7 linked regions of the Homo sapiens genome follow. The protein of the gene in region 6 purifies or fractionates together with the protein of the main gene of each other region. This does not show direct contact. Each region holds a gene or a part of one and is shown on either strand. Other genes may lie near its edges.

Region 1 (4,036 bases), on a different chromosome or scaffold from region 6:
CAGCCCTGGGTGTCCAAGACTTCCCCTCCATGGGCCTCAGAATCGTCCATATGATGTAACACTCTTTTTTTTGAGACTGAGTCTCGCTCTGTTGCCCTGGCTGGAGTGCAGTGGCTCCATCTCGGCTCACTGCAACTTCTGCCTCCTGGGTTCAACCGATTCTTGTGCCCCAGCCTTCTGAGTAACTGGGATTACAGGCGCACACCACCACGCTTGGCTAATTTTTAGTACAGACGGGGTTTCACCATGTTGGCCAGGCTGGTCTCGAACTCCTGACCTCAAGTGATCCGCCCGCCTCGGCCTCCCAAAGCACTGGGATTACAGGCGTGAGCCACTGCCTCCGGCCAAAGTAACACTTTTGCACAGGGAGTTGGACTTGAGTGACAAATGGGTGACAAAGTGCTTTGTTAACTCGCAGATGTGAAGGGGACACTGCGGCTGACCGCCTGGTGACAGCTAGCCAGTGGTTGAGAGACCGCAAGATGGTTCCTCGTCTTTCACTTCCCTCCGTCCCAGGTCTGAACTCGGACCAGCTGGAGCCTTTGGGGGACCACGGATTCCCCTTTACACTCACACAGATTTCTCTTGTCCGTCACTCACTCACAGTCCAGTAAGGATCCTGCTGTCTATTCCGCGAAGACATCTTGAATGCAGGGACAGCCATTTGGAAGACTGTCCTCGAGGGTGGCAGCAGCCTCTCAGGACGGGGAAAGCCAAGGTGCCCACTAAGCCCGTCTGGGGTGGAGGGTGGCAGGCCGGGGTGGAGAGGATTGGAGGCCGCCTGAAGGAACCTGTGCTCGGTGGCATTTACTCAATGTGGGGGTCTGACACCTCCCAGCTCATTTTGTCCCCATCTTCCCCTTGCGTCAGGTCCCCACCCAGCAGGAGGAGGTCCGAGGATCTGCGCGACGCTGGCCCCGCGGAGTGTGGGGGACTTTTCCTCTCAACCACCAGTGCCCCGCAAGCGTGGGTGAACAGTCCTCCCTGGCTACTGTGGGACGCTGGGCAGGCGACTTCGCCTCTCTAGGCCTCGGTTTTCCTGCTTGTCAAATGGGGCTGATGCCGGCGTGGGCTTCTTCAGGCGGTCGCGAGCGTTGACCCCTGGAGTCAGCGAACCAGCCGCGCACGCACTCCCGGGCGGAGGTCGGGGCTGGGGGGCGACGCCTCCCGTCTGCGCGCCCCCGGCCCCGCCTCCCGCCGGCGCACCCCTCCCTCGGCTCCGCCCGCGGCCCGCTTCTTCCTCCCGCGGGCGGCCCAGCCCTAGCGCCCCGCGCTCCGCGGGCAGCCCCCTGCCGCCGCGCCATGTCCGCCGGCTGGTTCCGGCGCCGCTTCCTGCCTGGGGAGCCGCTCCCCGCGCCGCGGCCGCCTGGGCCGCATGCCAGCCCCGTGCCCTACCGACGGCCCCGCTTCCTTCGCGGCTCCAGCTCCAGCCCCGGGGCGGCCGACGCCTCGCGCCGCCCAGACTCCCGGCCCGTGCGCAGCCCCGCACGAGGACGCACGCTACCCTGGAATGCAGGCTACGCCGAGTGAGTGCCCCTCCCCGACCCCCAGCTCAGGCCCGGGCCTGAACCCGCTTCGGGTCCTGCGCCCGCCTAGAAAGCGGGAGGAGCTGAGTGACAGTCCCCACCCACCTGTGGACAGCCCCTTCTTGCCCTCACCTCCGAATCCTGACAACTTCCCGGTCATCCCGACCCAGCGTTTTCCTTGGGATTCCGACCTCCCCCTCAGAGAAGACAGGAGGTCGGGAAGGACCTGCAGCCCAGGGGCTTCCAAGATGAGGCCCAGAGACTCGGTAGAGTTCCAGCATTCGGGGCTTTGGAGATTTCCCCTCGCCCTCTACCCCCACCATCTCACCCTGGGTATGACCTGCGCTGTATGGGACAGGGCTTTGGGCTGCGACAGGACAGGGGCAGGAATGGCAACCTACCCTTACCGTCTAGCCCTGGGTCACCAGGTAGGCTCCAGAGGAGCTGGGCCCTGACTTTTACCTTAGCCATGAGGCCAGTGAAGTTAGGAAGCTTACATCGTGGTTGTCTAAGTGTGTGTTAGGGACAGCACTGGGGAGCTGTTGCCCCAGAGGGAGGGGTCTTCTCCCTGTGCTGGCTTGGGTCCCTGTGCCCATGGGGACATAGGTGTGTCCCTGGAGGGTCGCTTACCATTTCCCGGCCTCAGGATTATCAATGCAGAGAAATCTGAATTCAATGAGGATCAAGCCGCCTGTGGGAAGCTGTGCATCCGGAGATGTGAGTTTGGGGCTGAAGAAGAGTGGCTGACCCTGTGCCCAGAGGAGGTGAGTGCAGTCTGAGTTCTTGGCTGGAATCCCTCCGACAGGCTGGGGCCACGACCTGCAGGCTGAGGTTCTTACCCTGCTGCCCCAGGTCCTAGTTAGGTTGCGTCAGGGGACAAGTGGGGAAGTCAGGCAGAGGCTGACACTGAGCCCTTCCTGTGCAGTTCCTGACAGGCCATTACTGGGCACTGTTCGATGGGCACGGCGGTCCTGCAGCAGCCATCTTGGCTGCCAACACCCTGCACTCCTGCTTGCGCCGGCAGCTGGAGGCCGTGGTGGAAGGCTTGGTGGCCACTCAGCCCCCCATGCACCTCAATGGCCGCTGCATCTGCCCCAGTGACCCTCAGTTTGTGGAGGAAAAGGGCATCAGGGCAGAAGACTTGGTGATCGGGGCATTGGAGAGTGCCTTTCAGGAATGTGTGAGTGTGTGGCTTTTGGCTGGGGAAGAAGTGGAGATTTTGCCCCGGGGATCTCAGGAAATGGCATCTCTGTATACCCATGGTCATCACACCAGATCCTTGGATTGGGAGGATGAGATTGGGTTGGTTGGATTGTTACTAACAGCCATCACTATCAGCATAACCCCTCTCATTTATCCAGCACCTACTGTGTGCTAACTGCTTTTACCTGCATCATCTAATTGAATACCCTATTGGTCCTTGGTGCAGGGGCTGGTTTCTCTTCCTATTTTGAGTAGCACTTCCCTTGTCTAGATCTCCTGACTGCAGGGATCTTGGAGGTATGGCTGGACTTTGGGCTGGGACTGTCAGGCCTGCTGGTAGAAGTGAACTGTAGGGTAGGGTGGGGATTGAGAGACAAAGTAGTATGGTGGCAGAACAGGCAGCAGCTAAGGTGGCCTCGGTTTTCCCCAGGATGAGGTGATCGGGCGGGAGCTGGAGGCCTCAGGCCAGATGGGCGGCTGCACAGCCCTGGTGGCTGTGTCCCTGCAGGGAAAGCTGTACATGGCCAATGCTGGGGATAGCAGGTGAGTCACCCCTTGGAGGGTGGGCAAGGGTGGGATGGGGAGGGCATAAGCAGCAATGGGGACAAGCAAAGGTGGCTGGAAGTGGAGGGATAGTAGGAAGGATTGACTGGCTGAATTGTGTGTGTACTTGTTATGTGTCGAGTGTGGACAGTGGCTGCCGGGGAGGGCAGGGACCTCAAAGGCCCCGCTAAAGGGCTAAGCCTTCACCCTTGCAGGTCTTAGGTAGTCATGGAGGGCTTTAAGGGATCATCATGGACAGAGCTGGATCCTGGTGGTTGGAGGAGGGACTGGTAGGAGGGTGGCCATGGGTGAGGGTGGAGGCCTCCTCCTAGACCTCTCCCTTCTCTCCTCAATCCAGGGCCATCTTGGTGCGGAGAGATGAGATACGGCCACTGAGCTTCGAGTTCACCCCAGAGACTGAGCGGCAGCGGATCCAGCAGCTGGTAGGTGCCCTTGGCAGCATGGAGGCTGTGAAGCTCCAACTCCTGGGTCCAGGGCCATAAGAAGGAGTATGACCTGAGCGCAGCCTCCCCACCCCAGGCCTTTGTCTATCCTGAGCTTCTGGCTGGTGAGTTCACCCGACTGGAGTTCCCTCGGCGGCTGAAGGGGGATGACTTGGGACAGAAGGTTTTGTTCAGGGATCACCACATGAGTGGCTGGTGAGTGGGGATGGGGGACAGGTAGGAAGGGAGACCCCTGGGATCCAGGCCCAGCCGTATGGCCTGGGGCCCCCCTCCACCTTGGCAGGGTGGCACTGTGAGGGT
Region 2 (3,500 bases), on a different chromosome or scaffold from region 6:
GACTATTTGAAGAAATAATGGCTGAAAACTTCTAAAATATGATGAATGACATGAATATAACCATCCAAGAAGCCCAAAAAGCTCCAAGCAGGATGAACTCAAAGAGACCCACACTGAAACATTCTAATCAAATTGTCAAAACCCAAAGACAAAGATTTTGAAAACAGCAAGAAAGAATGATTCATCACATGTAAGGAATCCTCAATAAAACTATTAGCAGATTTCTGATCAGAAACTTTGAAGGCCACAAGGCAGTGGGCCAATATATCCAAAGTGCTAAAAGAATAAAAACTGTCTACCAAGAAGCCCACATCCAGCAAAACTGTCCTTTAAAAGTAAGGGAGAAATTAACACATTCTTAGATCAACAAAAGCTGAGAATGTTCCTTACCACTAGACCTGCCCTATAGGAAACGCCAAAGGGAGTCCTGCGGGTTGAAATAAAGGGTGATAGACAGTAATTCAAGTGAAGAAGTAAAGATCTCAGCCAGGCATAGTGGCTCATGCTTGTAACCCCATCACTTTGGGAGGCCGAGGCAGGAGGATAACTTGAGCCCAGGAGTTCAAGACCAGCCTGAGCAATATAGGGAGACCCTATCTCTATAAAATAAAAATATTTTTAAAAATCGACCAAGCATGGTGGTGCACACCTGTGGTCCCAACTACTGGGGAGGCTGAGGTGGGAGAATCATTTGGGCCTGGGAGGTTGAAGCTGCAGTGAGCTGTCACCACACCACTGCACTCCAGCCTGGGCAACAGAGCAAGACCTTATCTCAAAATAAATAAATAAATAAATATCTCAGTAAAGGTAAATATATAGACAATTATAAAAGCTAATATTGCTGTAACAATGGTGTGTAATGCTGCTTTTTGTTTTCTACATAATTTAAGAGACTGATTTAAAAATAACATTATGCTTTTGGACACATAATATATAAAGGTGTAATTTTGTGACATCAATAACTAAAAGGGTTGGGGACAGAGCCATTCAGGGAGCAGAGTTTTGTTTATGCCATTGAAGCTAAACTGGTATAAATTCAGTGTAGACTGTTATAATTTTAGGATGTTAAAATGCAATCCCCATGGTAACAACAAAGAAAATAACTAAAGAATAAATACAAAAGGGAATGAGGAAGGGATTTAAATGTTTCACCATCAAAAAAATTAATTAAACACAAGACAGTGATACTGGAAATTAAGGACAAAAAAATCCATAAGGTATACAGAAAAAAAATGCAAAATGAAAGAAGTCCCTCTTTATCAGTAATTACTTTAGATGTAAATGGATTAAACTCTCCAAACTCTCTCTGTTAAAAGACAGAGATTGGCAGAATGGATTTAGAAAGCCAAATCCAACTATATGCTCTCTACAAGAGATGCACTTTAGATCCAGAAACATAAATAGATTGACAGTGAAAGGATGGGCAATGACATGCCACACAAATAGTAACCAAAAGAGAGCAAGAGTGGCTATACTAATACCAGACAAGATAGGCTTTAAATCAAAAAAGGTTACAAGAGGGAAAGAAGGACATCATATATTAATAAAAGGCTCAATACAGCAAGATATAATAATTATAAATATTTATGCACCTAATAACAGTCCATCAAAATATTTATATCTTACACTGGGAAGATTGTTGCTGGCTCTCAGTCTGCTTCCAGTCTGCTCATATTGCTTTTGTTGTAATGATGGTCATATGTGGGAGCTCAGTGTCAAGAGGGCAGACTTGAGCCCACACTGCCAGGCTTCAGACCTCAGCTATTAGCTGAGTGCCCTGGGCAAGTTACCTCACTGGGCCTTGGTTTCCTCATCTGTTGGAGTGGGGATGGTAATAGTACCTATGTCCAAGGCCATAAGTCCAATTGTGAATGTTGAATGAAGGGATATAGGACAGTATCTGGTACACAATTATTATAGATTTTTCATTGACATTTTATACATTCTGTTTTCTTCAAAGACTTTTTGGTTCCTGTTTTGCACTCAGATACTTCCTTTTCCTGGAGTTTATTTGGGAGCACCATGTGAGGTAGTACCTTTATTTCTAGTCACAGGGTGAGCCCTCATCCCAGCCTGCTTCCACCACTCTGAAAGGCCACCATGTCATAGCCTAAGTTCTCGTGTGTTGTTATGCCCATGGTTGTGTGGAGTGTTGGCCTGTTCCAGCACCAAAACCAAAACTGTAATTTTATCGTTTCATTTGATAGCACAAGCTTTCTCATCACTCTATTTTTTATTTTGCTCAACTCTTCTTGCTTTTTCTACCAAGTAAAACTTGGATTCATTTTGCAAACTCCTATCTACAAAAATGCAAAAAATTTTCTTGGAAACTTTAATTAAAATTGCATTCTATTATAGATTCAGTTAGGAATAACTGATATTTTTAAATCAGTTTAAGATAGTGGGATGATTTCTTATCCAAAAACAAGGTTTGTCTTTCCAATATATTTCTCAAAAATTTTTTTGAGTTTTTTTCATAAGTCCTGCACATTTTTATTCAGTTGATTCCTTGGGTTTATGTTGTTTTTCTTACTAGTGTAAATAGCATTTTTCTGCAACATTTTCTAACTGGTTGTTAGAAAATGTTTCTTCTAACTGATAGAAGAAAATCAATAACTTTTTGTATGTTGAGGACTAAGCTCTGATTTTTTTATCTTGCCTATATTCTTATCTAAGGGGTCTGGGGAGTCATGCCCTACAAACCATAAATTCTCATCAGATGGTTTTATCTAACCCTATATGCTGTGACTTACTTTCCATCTGACTCTGGCATGACACTACACGACCAAGAAGAAAATAAAAATATTTTACCCCAAAACATGTTTCTTTGCCACATTTTGAAATGGCCCTGCAAAGCTGTCCTTTACTGGGGAAAATTTGCATCTGTAAGGAATCTCTGTTAACATAGCTAGCTCTTTTTCTTCCAGGCCCTCCCAATTCTGAAGAGATTAACCGAGAGTCTAGCAGCTTTTAAAGGTCTCAGTAGGAAACACTTGTCATTGATTGTCTCTAAGGGCAGCCACTATGAGACTTCAGAAGAACCTTGGTCTCCACAGTCTTTTATCTTAACCTGAGCATTTCCTTTCTATGATCCCAGGTCTTTAGACAAACTCAACCAATTGTCAACCAGAAAATGTTTAAATTTACCTGTAGCCTGGAAGCCATCTCTCCCCGCTTTGAATTTTCCTGCCTTTCTGGATTAAACCAATGTATTTCTTAAATGTATTTGATTGATGTCTCATGCCTCCCTAAAATGAATAAAACCGAGCTGCACCCCAGCCACCTTGGGTACATGTTCTCAGGACCTCCTAAGGGCTGTGTCATGGGTCATGGCCACTCATATTTGGCTCAGAATAAATCTCTTAAAATATTTTACAGAGTTTGACTCTTTTCATCAATGATATATTTTTCTAAGTGGCTCACTAAATTTTCTCTCCCTAATCTCCCCTCCTTTCTCTTTCTTTCTCTCTTTCTCTCTGTCTATATATATATATATTTTT
Region 3 (4,264 bases), on a different chromosome or scaffold from region 6:
AAGAGAAACCGGGCAGACAGGTGGTCCCGGATGCTCCCTCGTCGGGAAGCGCAGTTGGGTTCCAGGGAGCCCGTGGGTGCTGGAGGCCCCAGCTCAGGGCTCAGTGAGCCGGGCCAGCCTGGCCTCTGAGAGGGCTCCCGGAGGAGGCGACCAGGACCCTGGCCTAGAGTCTCAGCAAGTCCATCTCCTTCAAATGCCCCCACCTCGGCTCCACGCCCCTCCTCCAGAGCACACTCGCGTGAGGCGCCAGCTGGAAGATCCTCGCGGGTCCCAGCACCGCAGTGGGTGCCTGGGCCTGACAGAACCTCCCTGAACCCCATCTTTCTTCTCCATCGACACCGGGGCAGAGACGGTGTGGGGGCTGCAGGGCGGGGACTGGTCGGCCTGGGCTCGACAGCTTGGCGAGGGCCTGGTGCGGGCTGGGCAGGCTGGACTGAGGGGCAAAGAGGTCTGGGCGGGGCGGGGCCGCTCTGGGCGCCCGGCCCCCACCAGTTCCTTCCCCCGGCCCCCGCCTCCGCCCTCCCACGCACCTGCGCTGGCCTCCCCCCAAGCCCTGGGGGCAGCGGGCGGGTGGCGCTGGGAGATCAGAGGACTCGGAGGAGTCGGGCCCAGGGGGAGGGGGCGGGGAATTTCCCCCCACGCCTGCCTGGGCCTGCTCCCCTCCCCCTCCCCCGCCAGGTGGGGGGCACGGCTGGGGGAATTCCACTGCAGTGTGAAGGCTCGGGAGAGTCTGGGCTGGGGGTCCCAGGGAAGGGCGGGGCAGGGGGAGGAGGAGGGGACAGACTGGGACCTGGGGCGCAGCTGCCTTTCTCCCCAGACACCAGCTGCCCCTGCCTGTCCCGGACTGAGCGTCCACGACTCCCGCCTGTCTCGTGGGCGCGGGGGCAGGGAGTGGAGCTTCCTCCGTCAGGCCAGCGGCATCTGGACCAGGGGCGGGAGGGGCGTGCGGATCCGAAGAAAGTGTGCGCGTGAGCGCCTGGCAATGAATGGGAGAGAGTGCGAGCGCGTGCGTGCACTGGGAGGAGGGCGCTTGTAACTCGGACATTCCGGGTGTCCTGGGGCGCGTGCGACCACGTGAGGGGGTTCTGTATCTCCCATTTTAAGGGCCTTCCGTCCGCTTGCCCCGCCTGTCCCCCTCCACACCTTCCCACTTGAACCGGCACCGACCTGAGGGAGAGGGGGCCGGGAAGCGCTGGACGCCCGGGGTCGGGGGAACGGGCGTGGGAGGCGTCTGGACCTGCTGCCTCCGCTCCAGTGCTGGGCGGGGCTTCCCGGCCTCCCATGGGGGGAGGGAGAGACCCAGGGGGAGGGACCCACGGAGGGATGCGAGGCGGGCAGGAGTCAGCCCGTTGGAGACCTGGGCGAGGGAGACGCCGAGAGCTAGGCTCAGTGGGAGGGGGCGGGCGTAGAGGCTGAGGCACCGCCCAGAGCTCGCTGAGACAGAGACTGAGAACGCCCCCGGCCAGATTCCCCCCGGAGAGACCCGGGTAGGGACAGGGACAGAGAGACGCCTCTAGGGGCAGAGGCCCTGGGAGGCAAAGACCCCCAGGAGAGATTTACCCACCCCAGACGGAAAGCGCGGCTCAGAGTCGGACGAGGGGAGACTGTCAGAGGACAACGCCCCCTAGGTCTCCTGGGAGACCCCGAAGCGACCCCGGGGGCAGCCCGGGCCGTGTCCGGGCGAGGGTGACCTATCCTTGGTTGAGAGCGATGGGGACACAAGCCCTGCAGGGCTTCCTCTTTCTCCTCTTCCTCCCGCTGCTGCAGCCGCGTGGGGCCTCGGCTGGGAGCCTGCACAGTCCAGGTAAGTCCCCGCACGGCTGTCGGGCCGTGTTCACCACCCCTTCCTCGGCCTCCGCCCCCAGGGCCAGGCCCCCAAGGCTAGGGAGGGGGACAGAGCAGGTGGCCGGAGCAGCTGAGCAGCCCGAGGGCTCCTGCAGGGGCGGGTGCGGGGTCGCTGGCTGGGGACCCAGGCGGGAGGTGGCGTAGGGGCGCGAGGATGCCCGGCGTGGGTCCGGACCTCCCCAGGCCCTGCCTTTGCCGTGCAGGCCTGTCCGAATGCTTCCAGGTGAATGGGGCTGACTACCGCGGCCACCAGAACCGCACTGGCCCGCGCGGGGCGGGCCGCCCGTGCCTCTTCTGGGACCAGACGCAGCAACACAGCTACAGCAGCGCCAGCGACCCCCACGGCCGCTGGGGGCTGGGCGCGCACAACTTCTGCCGGTGAGGGGCGGGGCCTGCGCTGGGGGCGAGGCTGGGCTCACCATTGCAGGGATGGCCCGAAGCGGGGCCTCCGTGCGGGCGGGGTGGAGGTCTGCCGTGGACTGGCAGCCCAGCCTCCTGGAGAACCTGGGGGCGGGGCCAGAATGAGGGGCGGGGCGGGGCGGGGCGGGGCGCGCGGAACCCTGGCGCAAAAGGGATCCTCCTCAGGTGAACAATTTCTGCAGAGCTCCAGTTCAGGGCCAGGAGAGAAACGGACCTGGGCACTCAAAGGACCCGTATGGGCGGGGCCTGGTCAGAGCGGGGGCCGAATGGGCGGGGCCTTGTCAGAGTGGGGCTCTTGTCATACAACTTATTTTGGGGTTCAGAGCCACAGCTACGGTCTGAGGCAGGATGGACCCAGCGGGAGGAGAGCCGCAAAGCTCAGGAGCTCACTTCTGCTTTTAAGTGGGGTTGGAGGCCAGGCGCGGTGGCTCAGCCTGTAATCCCAGCACTTTGGGAGGCCAAGGCAGGCGGATCATCTGAGGTCAGGAGTTCGAGACCAGCCTGGCTACCATGGTGAAACCCCATTTCTACTAAAAATACAAAAAATTAGCGGGGCATGGTGGCGGGCGCCTGTAATCCCAGCTACTCAGGAGGCTGAGGCAGGAGAATCGCTTGAACCCGGGAGGCGGAGCTTGCAGTGAGCAGAGATCGCGCCAATGCACTCTAGCCTGGGTGACAGAGCGAGACTCGTCTCAAAAAAAAAAAAAAAAAGTGGGGTTTGAGGGACGGAAGTGGCTGAGGCCCATGCCGGGTGGGGGTGAAGAATACAGATGGCCTCAAAGTCCTCATATATGGAGTCAAGTCTAGCAACAGCTGAAGCCTAAAAACAGCTCTCAAGTCCCCTTTAATGACTTCCCGCTGTCCACTCGGAAGTCGACGTCCAGTTCCTTCATCAGGCAGAGTTCTGCGTAGACAAAACTGGAATTTGTGGGTGTACAGCAGGCAGCACAGCCGCTCACAGGCACAGAGCCTTGAAGGCCACTTTGAGCATAGGCTGCGGGGCCGGGCCTGGGTTTGCTATTCTTGGGGTGGTGGGAGCCCCACCACCTCCCTCCCACCCGCAGTAACCCAGACGGTGACGTGCAGCCGTGGTGCTACGTGGCTGAGACAGAGGAGGGCATCTACTGGCGCTACTGCGACATCCCCTCCTGTCACAGTGAGTAGCGCGGCTGGACAGAGGTGGGAACGCTGCTGCATCTGGGAGGAGGGTTGTTTTCGGAGTCACGGAAGTCTGACTCTGCCCCCTCAGTGCCAGGCTACCTGGGATGCTTTGTGGACTCAGGGGCACCCCCAGCCCTCAGCGGCCCCAGCGGCACCTCCACGAAGCTCACGGTCCAGGTGTGCCTACGCTTCTGCCGCATGAAGGGGTACCAGGTACTGCTCACGGGCCCAGACCAGTGACCCCTGACCTGGACCTAAAGACCACACTCAACTCCCAACACTCGGTTGCCAAACCCAGACACCGGTTTCTGAACCTCCAGCCCGATTCCCACCCCGACCCCAGGCCCCCACCACTTCACCCCTACCCCAGCCCCTGCCCTGGGGTCACCCAGTCTGTGCTCCCAGCTGGCGGGCGTGGAGGCCGGTTACGCCTGCTTCTGTGGCTCTGAAAGCGACCTGGCCCGGGGACGCCTGGCCCCCGCCACCGACTGTGACCAGATCTGTTTCGGCCACCCTGGACAGCTGTGTGGCGGCGATGGGCGGCTGGGCGTCTATGAAGGTGAGGAGTGGGCGGGGACCAGGGGCCTGGGCGGGCCTCGAGGTGGGGCCTGGCCGGGCAGGGGAGCCGCCGTGTCCTGGTCCTCAGGATGCTGACTGCCGGCCCCGCCCGCAGTGTCGGTGGGCTCCTGCCAGGGGAACTGGACAGCGCCTCAGGGCGTCATCTACTCCCCGGACTTCCCGGACGAGTACGGGCCGGACCGGAACTGCAGCTGGGCCCTGGGCCCGCCAGGCGCCGCGCTGGAGCTCACCTTCCGCCTCTTCGAGCTGGCCGACCCGC
Region 4 (3,500 bases), on a different chromosome or scaffold from region 6:
TAACAAGGGCTGAAGAAACAGATTTTTATTTTCTAACCTCAATAAAAGAAGACTTGAAGGTAGGATATATAATTAATTTTTTTAAATGTTAGAGGCTACCATATAAGAGAAATTGTTCAGAATGGCCTCCACATAGCAGAACTGTGACAAACTTAGGATAAGGGAGAATTGTTTTTAAAAGTCTAAGCTTTCCAAATAGATGGATTATCTTTATGGTCATGAGGTCCTCATCACTGAAGGTATTCAAGGACAGACTGGTCAACCATTTGGAGATAGGCCATGCAGGGGAATTGTGCACCTTCTGGAGACTAGAGAAAAACTTTTAGGTTTCTTTCAATCCAAAGACTCAGATTTTAATCAAGAATTTCATTCATTTCCCCATGCAGGTTGATACAGTTTCCTCAGAGAGGTCCATGAGGTCTCCCATTTACATCTGGGAAGGACTAACTGTCTAATTCCTGAGCAAACTTTGCCCTCCTCCCCCTGTACCCCAGTGTTTTCCAACGCAATCCACATCGGATACCCAGGAAAACACCACCACTAGTACTTGCAGTGGTGCTGCAAACAAGAAGGACTTGAGACGACAGTTAGCAAAATAACTAAATAACTGACCAACACGTGTATATTCTACTTTGAGCACCCTACAAAGTAGCCTAAATCAGGGTCCCTGTCATTAATGGGCTACAGTCACGATGTAAAGTTGAGACTTATATACAGGAACACAAAATGAACCCAGGGACAGGTGGTAAGTAAAAAATGAGAGGGTGGTAGGAGTTCAAAAGGGAAAGCAGCACAGTTGCTACTAAGTTAGTTGAAGGTTACAGGCAGAAAGTGGTTTAAGCTGGGCTTTGAGGACTGCAATACTTGTTGGCAAGGGAGGAAAAGGGGCCCACTAGGAAAAAGTCAAAGAAGTCAGAAACACACAACATGTTCCATAGGCAGTACTAGTCCTGGCTAACAGAACTGGAGAGTTCACAAGGGAGAAACAGCAGGAGGCAGTTGACACACCAACAGCATAACAGTAACACCATGAGAAATAGCAGGTGTTACCCTTTCCCTAGGCACTGTGCAATGTAGGAAGCCAGAAACACCTAAAGATTAGGAAAGTAGCTATCAAACCCAGCTGTACATTAGAATCACCTCTTTAGAAAATGATGCCAGGTCCACTTGAGAGATTCTGAACCCAGGTGGTTCCAGTGAACAACAGGGCTTGAAATCCTGGGTTAGAGGCTCAAAGTAAAGAACCCATAGTCAGTAGTCTCATTAATCACTGAATATCCTCTACCTTTCAGAACTCTAACACCTGATCATACAGCAAACCAGGAGGCTGGTGAAGCAAGAAAAGGAGAAGCACTGTTGAAAAAGAACCAGTGACAATGTACAGACAGTAAATCAGGGTCTTAGTGGGAAAAGACAAAAATATAAGCCCCCGAGGGACTTTGTCTGAACCATCCAGCCCAATGAAACCTCTTGCTTTTCACCATACTTAAAAGTCCTTCATGAGACTTCTTTGCCTGATAGAAATTATTTTTATCATAAAATTAAACAGTCAGCCCACTTGTCTTTCCTCTTTCCAGAGCTATACCACCCCTCTTCTACATGAGGGGTTCTTCAGAAGAAGAGGACTAGGGCAGCCATATGGCCCACACAAGGAATCTGGACTTGCATGTCTGAAATCTCTTTGGACTAAGTCCAGGAAGATAACTCCAAGTCATTTAAACCTGATGACTGTCTGGTAGTCAAGGAGAGATAAGGAATAAGAGTGACAGCTCATCATCTATTCAAATGCCTATTGCAGGCACAATGCTAACCTTTTAGACAGTACCTTTCCAGTAGTGTTGACCAAGACAAGTAAAGCAAATTGACAAATACATCACATTCACATTCAATTCATCAAGACTGAGTAGAATGTTAAAAAATGGGTTGCTCTTAGAGGTCATCCAGTCTAATCCTTTCCATTTTACTGGATGAGGAAACTGGGACCAGATAGGGTTCCAGTAGGAATATTCACCCAAGGTCACAAAACTGGAAAGCCAGAGGACTCCATCCCTTCCTCCAACTCCCAGCCTAGGGCAATTTCTCCTGGGGTCACACTGACATCTCACTACCTTCTGAAAGCTGAAAAACCTGCTACCCTTTTATCCTTTTTAAATGGTTATTTTCCATTTGCTATAACTACAACTTACTCTCTGTCAGGCACTACCAGGAGGGTTCTCTGTAAATTAAATCACGGAGTCCTCACAACAGTTGAAGCAGGTTACTATTATTATCCGCATTTTACAAATGGAAAAACCTGAGGTAGAGAGAGGTCACATAGCCAGGGCAAAGTTGGGGCTATTTAACCCAGACAGTCTGGCTCCAAAGTCCACATTCTAACCCCCTTCATGAGAGTTTATGAAATATAATTTCTTGAATTATAAAATGATGGAAGAAAAGGAGTAAGTCTTAAACAGAAAGGGCATGGTCACTAGTGTTTGATAATGAATTGAAAAGCTAAACCATAAATGTCATTAATATATACAATATACGCTTCATCTATTTATTAAGGGAATGTCTATTATATATATTTGAAGCATATTAACATTTCAAGTGTATATTTTTTAAAGGCACAATGATCATGTGCACAGCAGTCACACAAAGCTTGCCACTAGAAATAGGCAGAATGCTATTTGCCTGCTGGCTTTGGAAAGGTCTCTTCTGAACAGGCTACTATGGAGAGCAAAGCCACCACTGCTGATTTCTGCCTGTTGGTCCTCACTCATAGACACATTTTCATCTGCTCTTAAGAGAACATCGCTTGTATGTTAACTTTCTACAGAAATCAGACCTCGAGTTATTTATAATTGAGGGAAAGATTAAACTAAAACAAGAGAAAACACCTCTGAAAATTAAAATACATTTTTATACAAGTGTTCAAAACCAGTATCACTGGAACAAATGCCCACTATTCAATTATATACTTTTTTACTTTCTCTCATTAAAAAATGATGTCAGATCTCATTATCTTGGTTATCCAGGAGAAGAAGTCCAGGAGCAATAATGTTACAAATAAGCAAATTACTATTGTGCCTGAGATCAAATTTCAAGGGAAAAATGGAAGTCAATTAAGAAGATGCACTATCACATTAAAAAAATAAGTTACATGACTTATTTTGCCAGTCAAATGTCTTTAATTTTTTTTTTTTTTTGAGACAGAGTCTTTTTCTGTCACCCAGACTGGAAATGTGGTGGCACCATCTCAGCTCACTGCAGCCTCTACTTCCCCAACTCAAGCTATCCTCCCCACTCTGCCTCTCAAGTAGCTGGGACTATAGGCACACACCACACACCACCATGCCTGGCTAGTTTTTGTATTTTTTTTGTAGAGACAGGGTTTTGCCATGTTGCCCAGGCTGGTCTTGAACTCCTGGGCTCAAGCAATCCTCCCACTTCAGCCTCTCAAAGTGTTGGGGTTATGTGCATGAGCCACCACCCCCACCCTGGCCAGCCAAATGTCTTAA
Region 5 (3,500 bases), on a different chromosome or scaffold from region 6:
GAAAAAACAAAAAGAAAGAAAAGAAAAAGAAAGCACTTCCACAGAAGTCTGACAGTCTCAAACCTTCTAATATAAACAGAAAGATAGGAAAATATAAGCTTCCCCCAGATTAAATGTCATTTCAGAAAAAGAGCCAATTCATACCATCTTTACAAAACACAGATACCCTCAAATAATTGCTGCTATTGCATATTCGTCCCTTGGACCCCTTCTTGCACTTCAAAATGATTGCAGCATCTGATATAACTTTTTTCTTCTATTCCAACAACAGCAACATCATTAACTGCATGGATAGCTTAGCTGACTTCAGGACCTCACAGTTTTAAGATCTCTATGATTTTATCTCCAGAGCAACCTTGAAATAGCAGAGCTCTACCTTCACTCTTATTACTCACAGATCTCAAACTTGGAATCATGTATCATTCATCAAAGCCTCCTTTACCTTCTATCCACTAATCCAATGAACTGGTTCTTCAATCAATTAACCCTTCCAAAGATGATCTGTCCATTAACCCCTCCTGAAAAATATTTAAATCCATATATAGCCTGTACTTCATTAGCATTAACTGCAAAAGGCTTACTATCCTACATAAACTTGATTGCACCACAAACTTATAAACTACCATAAATCTTCAACCATATCTGCTGTATAGTTCTCAAAGCCTTGCGCTAAAATGCATTGCAAAAATCACAGTGGTATTAAGAAACAAAGATGATTAAAAGCCTTAATTACTACTCAGGAAAAGTTTCATATAGCTCGTTAATGCCTTATATGGTAATTCAAATCGCCTCAACCTTCTTTAAGAGTTTCCTTTCACCCTGTCAACAAACTATTTCACTTCTTAAGCACTTCCTCTCTCAAATGAATAATTCAATGTGTGGAACAAAAAGAAGGGGGGAAAAAAGGTGAAATGTTTACTTGAGCATTGTCAGGTTCATCTTTTATTTTGTCTAGTAGTCCCTGCTGTGGTGCCATTGCTTTGTCATACTCATCATCCAAAGGTTCTTCTTTAATTCTAATATTTGATGCAAAGGAATTCCCCAGTTCCGAACCAATGGATTCTTTATTGGCAAATGGGTAGCTGGAATCCTAAAACACAATATAAAGGATTAATAAATATTCAGATTTTAAAATGATTCCTCTTCAGGTTTAACACCCAAAGAAAAGCTCATTGGAAATGAAGAACTCTATGGACATTCATTAGCTTTTGGATCTTATGCCTACGCCTAAAAGTAATTGTGTTATATGTCCAAATACCAAATACAAATAAAGACCCTAAGATTTGAGGCTTTTTAGAATGTCTCCGATGATGACCTTAAACAAATATTAAGCAAATTAAAAAAAAAAAATCAGTGCTCTACCTAATACATTGTTAGAATTTAGAAACTGACATAAAGAAAACTTTGACACTTGTCACAGTTACAGCAATCTACATACACACTGAAAACTTACCCTAAAGTTTGTTTCTGGGGTTTGTGGTAAATGGGTATGTAATGTTTCTTCAACTTGATTAGCTATTGAAAGGAAAAAAAAAACAAACAAACACATGTATATGAATAACAAATCTTACAAAGAGTGACCTAAAAAGCTATCATTTGATAATCACCTCTCTTTTCCAACAAAGATGCTCGTTAGAGTGAACTGGGTCCCAAAAACACCCAAAAGGTATTTTCACTCAAAGTTCTGCACAATCTGGCCCCACCTAGCTTTTAGCCTTACCCTACATTTTTTCCTTGCTCAAACCTAAAAAAAAAAAAAAAAAAATTATTTTTGCTCTGAAAATTGCTTGCATTTGTTCTCCCCCATTTCTACTTATTCTATTCCAAGTCCCCTCTGTCTATCCTAATCTTTATACAGTTTTCCAGACTCAGCTCAGTTAAAAATTCACCTCTCCTCTATAAAACCTTCCCTGTTCACTAAGTTAAAAATCATCTCTCTTCTAAGAATCCCTAAAACACAGTTTCAGTTATTTGAAAGACATCTTTTTGAACTGCCTTATGACAAACTCTTCTACCACTGTCTTTAACTGTAAATTAAATCTTACGCTATTCAGCTGGACATTGGCACTTCTACGGCCTGACTTGTCTTGTCCATTCTACTACTAGACATTATGTTCCTTGAGAAACATGACTCTCATACCCCAAGAAGGGATATTGGAAATATATACTGAATTATAGAGAAAAATATAGTATATCCTTGCACAGACTTGTACATACTCAAAAGCTGTCTTTTTAACAATACTGGTTTGTTCTTTCTACCATACATTTCCTAGCATTGTTAGAAGAAATACAAGGACTGGTATAGAATACTTGCTTTCCTTCACAGCTATTGAACATTTATTGAAGAATTACTATTTTACTACACCAGGTTAGGCCCCAAGAATACAAAGATGAGTAAGATACAATCTGGCCCTCAACTCCTACACTAGTAGGTAAGGTAAAACAAATATAGAACTATAATACTGTGTGATAAGTACTATAAATAATGAGGCATGAAAATGCTGTGGAAATATAGATAAGGAAACCATTCTTGATGTAGAGCAGTTAGAATGATGACAGAGTAGAAGAGGTTTATGAGTTAGGCATTGTTGGATAAGAAGTACTTTCACAAGCAAATATACAGAGAGAAAATGACATGCAGGCAAATGGAATAGCAGGAGGAAAGGAAGGCATAGAAGGAAATATGTGATATATTCAAGAATGTTAACTAAAGCTAAAGTATAGGGTACACTGGGCAAAGAGGCTCAGGAGGAACCTCAAGAAACTTCTAAAACATAAATTAGAAATGTTTGGGTTTTTTTTATTAAAAAAAAACTCCCTTTCAGATAGAGGTGAGAGTTAATAAACAAAAAATTAAATTAAAATTAAAAAAATAAAATAACTCCCTAATTTGGACTAAGTGGTGAGACAGCAGTTTGAATTAGTGCTTACAGCACAAAGAAGTTAAATCCAACTTCAGGTTCCAATGTTCAACCAAAGAAAATGAACAGGTGATTCAAGTATCTTGCCTTTCTCATCAAAACATTGCAACCAGGGGAGGGAGAAATGAGGTTTAGAGCTATTTTCAACCATTTATACCATTACCAAAAGTTACTGGGAGAAATTCAGTCACTCTGCAAAGAACAAGGACAAAAGAAAAATGACAAGCTTACAATGAATTTAACCGTTCATACTTCACTTAACATCAAAAGTAATAAAAGCTATATATTATGATCGGTAATTTTTAATTGTGTTTTATGGTTCTAAGTCCAACAATTATTACCTGCTTTATCAAAAAAACTGCTTTTCAACCTTGAATCCAAATCTTTATGGGGTTTATCCAACCGTTTTTCACGTTCATAAGTTAGGTCTCTATTTTTCTCCTTTCCAGAAAATGTCTCTTTGCTGTTTTCTCTTACTAGACTAAAATCTTTCCGTATTGATTTAAAGACAGAAACCTGATCAAATTGTTTAGGAAAGTCTTTTTTTAACTTATTTTGAATTTGTATTTCATTTTCATT
Region 6 (4,051 bases):
AAGAGTCTTCCCTAGAGCTGGGGTCGGGGCAGAGAACACAGGCTTGGGGAGCAGAGGAAAAGGGAAAGTGGGGGACGGGTGGGAGGAGAAAGAGGAGCAACAGCTTCTGGACTCACTTGTACTCCCCATACCCCTACTCAGCTGGAGTCCAAAAGACTCACCTGTCTGGCTTCACAGCACTGTCCTTTTTTTTAGGTCTGAAAAGTAAGATAGACAGACACAGACAAACAAGAGGAAGATCAGGAAATCCCAGCATCCTACTCTCTCTCTCTCTCTCTCTCTCTCTCTCTCTCTCTCTTTGAGACTGTGTTTCCCTCTTCTTGCCCAGGCTGGAGTGCAGTGGCGTGGTCTCGGCTCACTGCAACCTCCGCCTCCCAGGTTCAAGCTATTCTCTTGTCTCAGCCTCCCAAGTAGCTGGGATTACAGGCACCTGCCACCATGCGCGGCTAATTTTTGTATTTTTTTTTAGTAGAGATGGGGTTTCACCATGTTGGCCAGGCTGGTCTCAAACGCCTTACCTCAGGTGATCTGCCTGCCTGGGCCTCCCAAAGTGCTGGGATTATAGGTGTGAGCCACTACCCCCGGCCCAAGCATCCTACTTTGTTGCCCCAGATCCAAGGCCTACCCTTGGCTCTACTCTTTTTTTTTTTTTTTTTTTTTTTTTTTTGTGGCAGAGTCTTGCTCTGTCGCCCAGGCTGGAATGCAGTGGCACGATCTTGGCTCACTGCAAGCTACGCCTCCCAGGTTCATGCCATTCTCCTGCCTCAGCCTCCGGAGTAGCTGGGACTACAGGTGCCCGCCACCACGCCCGGCTAATTTTTTGTATTTTTTTAGTAGAGACAGGTTTTTACCATGTTAGCCAGGATGGTCTCGATCTCCTGACCTCATGATCCGCCCGCCTCGGCCTCCCAAAGTGCTGGGATTACAGGCGTGAGCTACCACGCCCGGCCCCTTGGTTCTACTCTTAGGAACCTGGTCCCCAGTTCTGTGGACCACCATACCCAGCACCCCCCAAGCCTGGCCTCTGCGAGCTCAGAAGTTGGGCCTGGCTGGCACCTGCATTCACACTGGCTGTGTTCTTCCAGGGACATCTCCCCCAGCTGACTGCTCGGGTACCGGATCATGAGGATCTGTGCTCAGGAGAAGAACAGGGGGGACAGTGAGGGAGAGAGAGAAAGGGGATGCTCTAAGACTGAAGGGAGAAAAGCTCACCCAACAGCCGGGAGGCTGGCCACCAGCCCTCCCCCCAACCCTGTCTCCTGTGCATCAGTCTCCAGGCTGCCCCAGCCCCAGAGCCAGCCAGCATCCACCCTGCCCGCTGCCCCACCTGCCCAGTACCTGCATCCCCTGCCCGTTGCCCCACCTGCCCAGTACCTGCATCCGGACTTGGTGCTGCCCAGTGGGCACACACTCCAGGCCATCGTCAGGGCAGCAGCCACCACAGCGCTGCACAGTCACGCAGCTGGGCACCAGCTGTTTGGCCACGGTGCCCATGAGCTCCACAGTCAAGGGCACCACCACCTCCCGGGGCTGGCAGGTAGCGCGAGTATACACATCTATCCATGACACCACTGGGAGCAGACCGGTAGGGGTTAAGTCCTCACTGGTTTTCCTGCAGCTGCTCCCAGCATCTGTCCTCCCCAGTCCCCAAGTCACAGCCACCCTCCACTAGCCCTCCCCACTCTGCCCTCACAACCTGTCTTCCCCTGCCCTGTTTATCCAGATCCCAGTAACCCCACTGCCTCAATTTCCTCCTCTGTGAAATGGGTAGAATAATAGTTTGAATCTTCTAGGGGAGTTACACAAGATGATGGACACCTGGAATCAGGGCCCATGACAAACCCTCTTAGTGCTGGCTAGTGCCGAGTTTTTGTAAGTATTACCTTTCCTCTGGTGGCCAGGGGCATCAGGCTGGGAGACAGGGGCCTGTGGGAGAGAAAAGACCTGTACCCAAGGTACACTTTAGGAGGGTGTGGCCCTGTCACCGTCCCTGGGGCTTTGCCCTTGCATCAGTAGGCTTCACCACCTCTCTGACATCTTTCCAGATTGCTCTGTTCCTGCGGCCACTGCTCTAGCTTTACCTGTCCTCTCCTGGCCACCCGGGACCTGCCCTGGCCCAAAACGCAACAGGTGCTCTGGTGGCCGCGCCAAATCTCCAGGCCGCGGAGCCGAGCATGTTTGGGGGCTGCATGCAGATCAGGAGCGCGCACAGTGCCCACCGAAGCAGGTCCTGCAGGCACCGAGGGAGCCCCGCCCCCGGCGGTGCCCAGGGGACGGGGTGGGGCGGAGGAGTGGCCCCAGACTGGGGCTGGCGGGCCAGCGGGGAGGGGCACCTCCCAGGGGATGCACGCGCCGGGCCCCCGAGACGCCCGCGTCCAAGGCCGGACCCCGCAGATCCCCTCGGCCGAGGCCGCGGGTCGCCTCCTCACTTCCGCCAACCTTGAGAGAGGGCACGGCGGGCGGGCGGGCGCGCTGTCGGGCCGCACGTACCTGGGCGGGGGCCAGCTGCAGGAGTGCGGCGAGCAGCAGGCGGCGGAGCAGAGGGCTCATGGTGCCCGCCGGGGCCGCCCGCCGGGGGCGCCCGCATCGCCCTAGCCCGGCGGCGCGGGGGGCGGCGACAGCCAGAGCCCCATGGCGCGGGCCCGGGCGCGGCGGGCGGGGGCCGGGCGCGGGGGGCGACTCCTCCGCGGCCCCCTCCCGAGCCCTGGGTGCAGGCAGCGCAGCGCAGCGCAGCGGAGGCGGCCGGAGGAGCCGGGCGGGCGGGCGGCCGGTGGCGGCGGGCAGCGGCGGCGGGGACGGCGGGGGCGGCGGGGGGCTGGGCCCGGGCTGGCGGGCAGGCGGCTCATGTGACCCAGACACGCGCTCCCCACCGGCCCGTGGGGCGGGGGCGGGGCGGCGGGGTGGGGGGGCGAGGCCGTCGGCGGGGCCCGCCTCCTCCACACACCCCCTCCCGCCTCCCGCCGCGGCAGGGGAAAGGGGACGCACCGCCCAGGAGGCTGGGCTCCCCAGTCGCCGCCGCCACTACCCGGAGGGCGGGGCGCTGCCCCTTGGCGAGGCCGGGGCCGGGGGCGTCGGGCCTTAAGGAGGGAGCCGGACACGAGCTCTGCGAATCACTTTATTGCGCGCGTTTCGGGGAGCGGGCCGTCCAGGGAAGGAAGCAAAGCGGGAACGCACTGCAGGCCCCATCCAGGTGAGCCCCTCAGGGGCCGGCGCCCCGGGGCACGATCTCGGGGCCTTGGGTTGGCTCGGATGGTGGCGGCTGCCGCTGCCCTAGCCGTTGTCGCTCCTGCTGAAGGATGCCTCTGTTGGCCCTGGAGGAGAGGGCACCTGGGTGGTTGGGATAGGGATCCCGAAGTGTGGTTCCTGGACAGGGAGCAGGGAGCAGAATAGAGCAGGGACAGACCTGGCCCGTGCCCGGGCTTCGTTGTAGAAGGCTGTGATGATCCGATCCTTTTCATCCATGAAGTTAAGGTGCATCTGCTTCACCTTCCTGCAATGGGTCACAATTAACCCTGGGAATCCAATTCCTGCTGTCCCTGAAGTCCTGCCCCCTTCCACCCCACTCTAGGGGCCTCACAGCTTTTTACCCTTACACAGGGTTAGGAACCTCAGTCTAACCCTTCCTGTGATAGATAGGGAGGGCTCAGAGTGGCCCTGGCTTGTCTAGGGTCCAATGGCATCCGAAGTCCCTGGTCACTTTGAGGTGTGACAGCAGCTGTGGACATGGGGGTGCTCCTCCCAGAAGACTAGAAAGGGTATGCGTCTAACTCCATCACTGAACTAGGCAGGCTGCTAGCAGTGGGCACTGGCCTTTAGGTATCTGCTATAGAAAATCGGCTTTGTGGCCAGGCGCGGTAGCTCTCACCTGTAATCCCAGTACTTTGGGAGGCTGAGGCGGGTGGATCACCTGAGGTCAGGAGTTTGAGACCAGCCTGGCCAATATGGTGAAACCCCATCTCTACTAAAAATACAAAACAACTAGCCGGGTGTGGTGGTGGACGCCTGTAGTCCCAGCTACTCGGGAGGCTGAGACAGAAGAATTGCTTGAACC
Region 7 (3,500 bases), on a different chromosome or scaffold from region 6:
ACCTGCGCACAGCTGCCATCCCAGAGCCAGCGCCATCCTGCGAAGCCAGAAGCCTGTGATGGTGAAGAGGAAGGGGACCTGCCCCACCAAGAGCTCCTGAGACCCCTGTCCCCCAAAAGCAATAGAGTTAGCTGGCTTTAATAAAAAAAAAAAAACACACACACCATAGACTGGCAAGGTAAACAGAGAAGCAGAGAAGCAGAGAGAAGGATGGCAGAAATGGGGGGTGGGGAGGTGACAAACAGCCTTAGATGCTCCAGAGATGCCAAGTCCTTGGGTCCTCATTCCCATTTACTCTCTTAACAACACTGCAACAGGGAGGACAGGGATGATTGTCTCTTCCGTGGGAAAAGAAGCTGGGCTCTAAGATGCTTCCGTGGGCTCTAAGATGCTGACCAGCTGCCCTGGTCACAGAGCTGCAAATGGGCCCCAAGAACAAGGTGTGAGCTGGTAAGGGGCGTCCACCGCAACACTGCAAATCAGGTTCTGCCTCCGAAACCTTGAACTCAGGGTCCAACAAAGTGACACAAGGGCCCAGACATTCCCCAAGAACGCCAGCTCAAGGGGGCTTACTTCTTTTACACAGAAATGAAGACTTCTCGTAGCAGCTCTCGGCGTGCCAGCTGTGGAGGTCGTGGTGCCGCAGGGTGGGGAAATGGAAGCACTGAAGCTGGGCACAGAACACGTTGTCGTTCTCAGACATGGCCGAGGCAAAGATGGGGTCTGGGGGCAGGAACACCTCTGAAGAGCCTGTTGGGGAGACAAAAGGTGGGGCTGGACAACATCACATCAGAGGACAAGCTGTGCAGTCCTCAAGGGGACCATGGCGTCAGACAGGATCATCAACCACAGGGCCTGGACCGCCAAGTACTGGTGGTCACTGTGGCCAGGTGTTCACTCGGGACTCCCCAACCTCCTGGGAGTCACCCCAGGTGCTGGGCCTAGCGGGAGCCACTCCTTGGAGCCTGCAAGCACACAGGCCACAAACCCTGGGTAGCAGTAAGTGCCAGCCTGAGCACCAGAAGAGGGTGCTGGATCACGGTTAGTGGGTGGCATTTAAAGTTAGAGCAACAGCATAATAACAAAGTAATGGATTGTGGCACACTGGATTAAAATGCAAACAGGGGAATGGGCAAGGGAAACAGGCAGGGAAGCTCTCCCTTAGGACAGCACACTCAGATAAACAGAAGACTTACAAAGTCCACCCAACACCCAGGAGAAAGGCGCCGTCAGGCAGCATTGGCACTGGCCGGCACTGCCAGCAGCTGGCTGCAGGGAACACTTAGGAAGCACTGGCTCCCGGGGACCTCTCTCAGCTCAAGGGAAACTGTCACCCACTCAGCTCCTGCCTAAGCCAGGCACAAGGCAGTCAGAAACCGTGTACCCCTGCCGCAGAGAGCGTGAGGGTTGGGGACTGCTAACCTCCAAGCCTCTCTTTTGCAAGGTTCCAGGTGGGCTCTGGCCATGCCCAGGGCATGGCACAGCCAGCCCTAGGCCCCACTCTCTCCCCTGCACGGCCCTTCCAGTCTGGGCTGCCAAGATTCCTTGAGGCTTACCCGACCAGGATCAATGGAAACACAAAGCAACCTTTCCAAGAAGCAGAATAATGAAGGCACACCTGGTGCTCTCCCCCTCCTAAGACAGCAGCAGTGCAGCTCACCCCATTTATAAGCCTCCAGCATTCTCACCTGCGTCTTTTGGAGCTCTGTTTATACCCAGCACGAAACATGGGGCTCTGCCTCAAAAAAGCCAGTGAGTCTGGAGGCAGGCCTATGCTGTGGGCCTGTGGACACATGGTGCCCTGCCATGGGCAGGAGGACAGCTCTCAGGAAGCTCTGAGACCTGCAAGACCTGTGCCAGGCCAGCAGGCAGCCACAGCAACAGCTGTGCCCCCTTCCCAGGGACATACAGGCCCAGCATCTCGCCTGCCTCATCTGCATCTATCAGACCCACAGCAGAGCAGGAAAGGGGCCCACTGTCTGGAGTCACCTCCCCATACCACCTGGAGGGCTGGTCTCCACTGCTGACAGTGGGTGCCACCACCATCACGCTGTGCACCACCCCACCTTTCCTCCAGGCCCCCGAGCCCCTGCACACCCTCCTCATCTCCCACAGATGCCTTCTCACCTAAGTAGAGCCCCTCCCCTTTTAAACACTGTTTTCTTCACTATTTGCCTTCTTGTCCCGTGGCAAGAAAACCAAACAGGTTCCTTCCAATCTTTAACAAACAAAAAATCTTCAGCGCTGAAGCTAGTTGCCAGCTAAGAGCTCCTGCCCACAACTACAGTACATGACAGCAGACTGAGACCAAGGACACAAATGACCTCTCCGGGCAGAGTCCTGGGACCCAGCATTTGCCCACGAAAGCTGCCTGGACCGGGGCACAGCAAGTCAGAGTGAGTCAGGCAACCAGCAAAACAGGGTTCGTGTGGCACTCTAGGCCAGGGCCCAGAGAGCCACACAGTGCTCCCTCCTGGCAGCAAGCTGCATGGGCACCTGTGTAGCGCCCCTGCCCAGGGGAGCTGCTGGTGGCTCTGCATCCAGGTGCTGAATGGGGGCTGGTCATGCGGGCACTGCATGCCTACCCGAGGTGCAGCCTTGCAGAGCGGGCAGGTGTTCGTCTTTGGAGCATCCCTGGAAGAGGTCACAGTGGCAGCCATGAACAAGGCAGCCTGTGGGGCTGGAGAAGAGGCTGGGGAGTGGTAGGTGATGAGGGTAGTGAAGGAAGGGGCTGCTGGCCTTGATGGAACTGTGATTTCTATGAGAAACGAGAGCTGTGAACAAGGGAGCAGAGGTGAAAAGGACCCCCAGCAGCTGTGTGAGGAGCGGTGGGGCTGGGGCCAGGAGACCAGACAGAGGCCACGAGCACAATCGGGTGACGGATGATTGGGTGTTAGATCCCGGTGGGGGCTGCAAGACTGGTGCCAGGTGATGAGATCCTGGACATATTCCAAAGGTGTGAGAGGAGCCTGGAGGCTTCCCGATACTGCACTGGGGATGACTCCTGCAGATTTTCCTCCAGGGCCTCCCACTTCCTCCTGGACACCCCCTTACCTCAAACATCCCGCTCTTCCTGAAGGACCCTCATCCTAGAGAAAGGCCCTGTGAGCAGAGCTGCCCTGGCTACCAGAGTGACTGGGAGCAGTTCCTCGTGCAGAGCCCTCCTCTCAAGCCTCCCTCCAAGACACTACTCCTCACCCCCTGCCACCCCAGCAGATCCAGTCCTCACCTCGACAGGGTGGCGGCAAGTTTCCAGGTGCCCCTCCCATATGTCCACACATGAGGTGTGCGCAGGACTCTGACGGGAGCCTTGGGCTGGGCCGTCACCAGCCACCGGAGGACACCCTGCTCCCCAGACTGATACACGAGGGCATCTGAACCTGATTACCTCTGCCACCACATCCTCTCCCACATGTGCGAGCAGCCACTGCCACCTCCATGTCCACCGCTGCTCGCCGAGCCTGGAGAACCCTCCCCGGCCCCCGAGTCCCCCATTGTTC

What was found.
Region 1: the proteins of VEGFB (region 6) and PPM1M purify together in Homo sapiens (co-immunoprecipitation; 2 studies listed by BioGRID and IntAct, with this or other methods). This does not show direct contact.
Region 2: the proteins of VEGFB (region 6) and COL6A2 purify together in Homo sapiens (affinity purification with mass spectrometry; 2 studies listed by BioGRID and IntAct, with this or other methods). This does not show direct contact.
Region 3: the proteins of VEGFB (region 6) and KREMEN2 purify together in Homo sapiens (affinity purification with mass spectrometry; one large-scale study listed by BioGRID and IntAct). This does not show direct contact.
Region 4: the proteins of VEGFB (region 6) and ARHGEF28 purify together in Homo sapiens (co-immunoprecipitation; one large-scale study listed by IntAct). This does not show direct contact.
Region 5: the proteins of VEGFB (region 6) and ZMYM4 purify together in Homo sapiens (co-immunoprecipitation; one large-scale study listed by IntAct). This does not show direct contact.
Region 7: the proteins of VEGFB (region 6) and DGCR2 purify together in Homo sapiens (affinity purification with mass spectrometry; one large-scale study listed by BioGRID and IntAct). This does not show direct contact.

What each region holds. Positions count from the first base shown.
Region 1 is NC_000003.12:52,244,523-52,248,558, forward strand, and holds the start of PPM1M (protein phosphatase 1M), read left to right. Parts: upstream 1-1,236; 5' UTR 1,237-1,302; coding exon 1,303-1,526; intron 1,527-1,644; exon of another isoform or gene 1,645-1,792; intron 1,793-2,172; coding exon 2,173-2,290; intron 2,291-2,451; coding exon 2,452-2,706; intron 2,707-3,159; coding exon 3,160-3,272; intron 3,273-3,630; coding exon 3,631-3,715; intron 3,716-3,798; exon of another isoform or gene 3,799-3,812; coding exon 3,813-3,931; intron 3,932-4,036.
Region 2 is NC_000021.9:46,104,612-46,108,111, forward strand, and holds part of COL6A2 (collagen alpha-2(VI) chain isoform 2C2 precursor), read left to right. Parts: intron 1-3,500. UniProt on the Homo sapiens protein: Collagen VI acts as a cell-binding protein.
Region 3 is NC_000016.10:2,962,811-2,967,074, forward strand, and holds the start of KREMEN2 (kremen protein 2 isoform d precursor), read left to right. Parts: upstream 1-1,464; 5' UTR 1,465-1,710; coding exon 1,711-1,804; intron 1,805-2,048; coding exon 2,049-2,223; intron 2,224-3,329; coding exon 3,330-3,421; intron 3,422-3,514; coding exon 3,515-3,639; intron 3,640-3,831; coding exon 3,832-3,985; intron 3,986-4,099; coding exon 4,100-4,264. UniProt on the Homo sapiens protein: Receptor for Dickkopf proteins. Cooperates with DKK1/2 to inhibit Wnt/beta-catenin signaling by promoting the endocytosis of Wnt receptors LRP5 and LRP6.
Region 4 is NC_000005.10:73,629,196-73,632,695, reverse strand, and holds part of ARHGEF28 (rho guanine nucleotide exchange factor 28), read right to left. Parts: intron 1-3,500. UniProt on the Homo sapiens protein: Functions as a RHOA-specific guanine nucleotide exchange factor regulating signaling pathways downstream of integrins and growth factor receptors. Functions in axonal branching, synapse formation and dendritic morphogenesis.
Region 5 is NC_000001.11:35,359,209-35,362,708, reverse strand, and holds part of ZMYM4 (zinc finger MYM-type protein 4), read right to left. Parts: coding exon 3,263-3,500; intron 3,108-3,262; exon of another isoform or gene 2,932-3,107; intron 1,516-2,931; coding exon 1,454-1,515; intron 1,091-1,453; coding exon 920-1,090; intron 519-919; exon of another isoform or gene 443-518; intron 1-442. UniProt on the Homo sapiens protein: Plays a role in the regulation of cell morphology and cytoskeletal organization.
Region 6 is NC_000011.10:64,233,333-64,237,383, reverse strand, and holds the start of VEGFB (vascular endothelial growth factor B isoform VEGFB-186 precursor), read right to left. Parts: upstream 2,801-4,051; 5' UTR 2,551-2,800; coding exon 2,491-2,550; intron 1,927-2,490; coding exon 1,884-1,926; intron 1,572-1,883; coding exon 1,375-1,571; intron 1,131-1,374; coding exon 1,057-1,130; intron 198-1,056; coding exon 162-197; intron 1-161. Other genes in the region: DNAJC4 (dnaJ homolog subfamily C member 4), read right to left, coding at 3,271-3,490. UniProt on the Homo sapiens protein: Growth factor for endothelial cells. VEGF-B167 binds heparin and neuropilin-1 whereas the binding to neuropilin-1 of VEGF-B186 is regulated by proteolysis.
Region 7 is NC_000022.11:19,056,413-19,059,912, forward strand, and holds part of DGCR2 (integral membrane protein DGCR2/IDD isoform 1 precursor), read right to left. Parts: intron 751-3,500; coding exon 574-750; intron 1-573. UniProt on the Homo sapiens protein: Putative adhesion receptor, that could be involved in cell-cell or cell-matrix interactions required for normal cell differentiation and migration.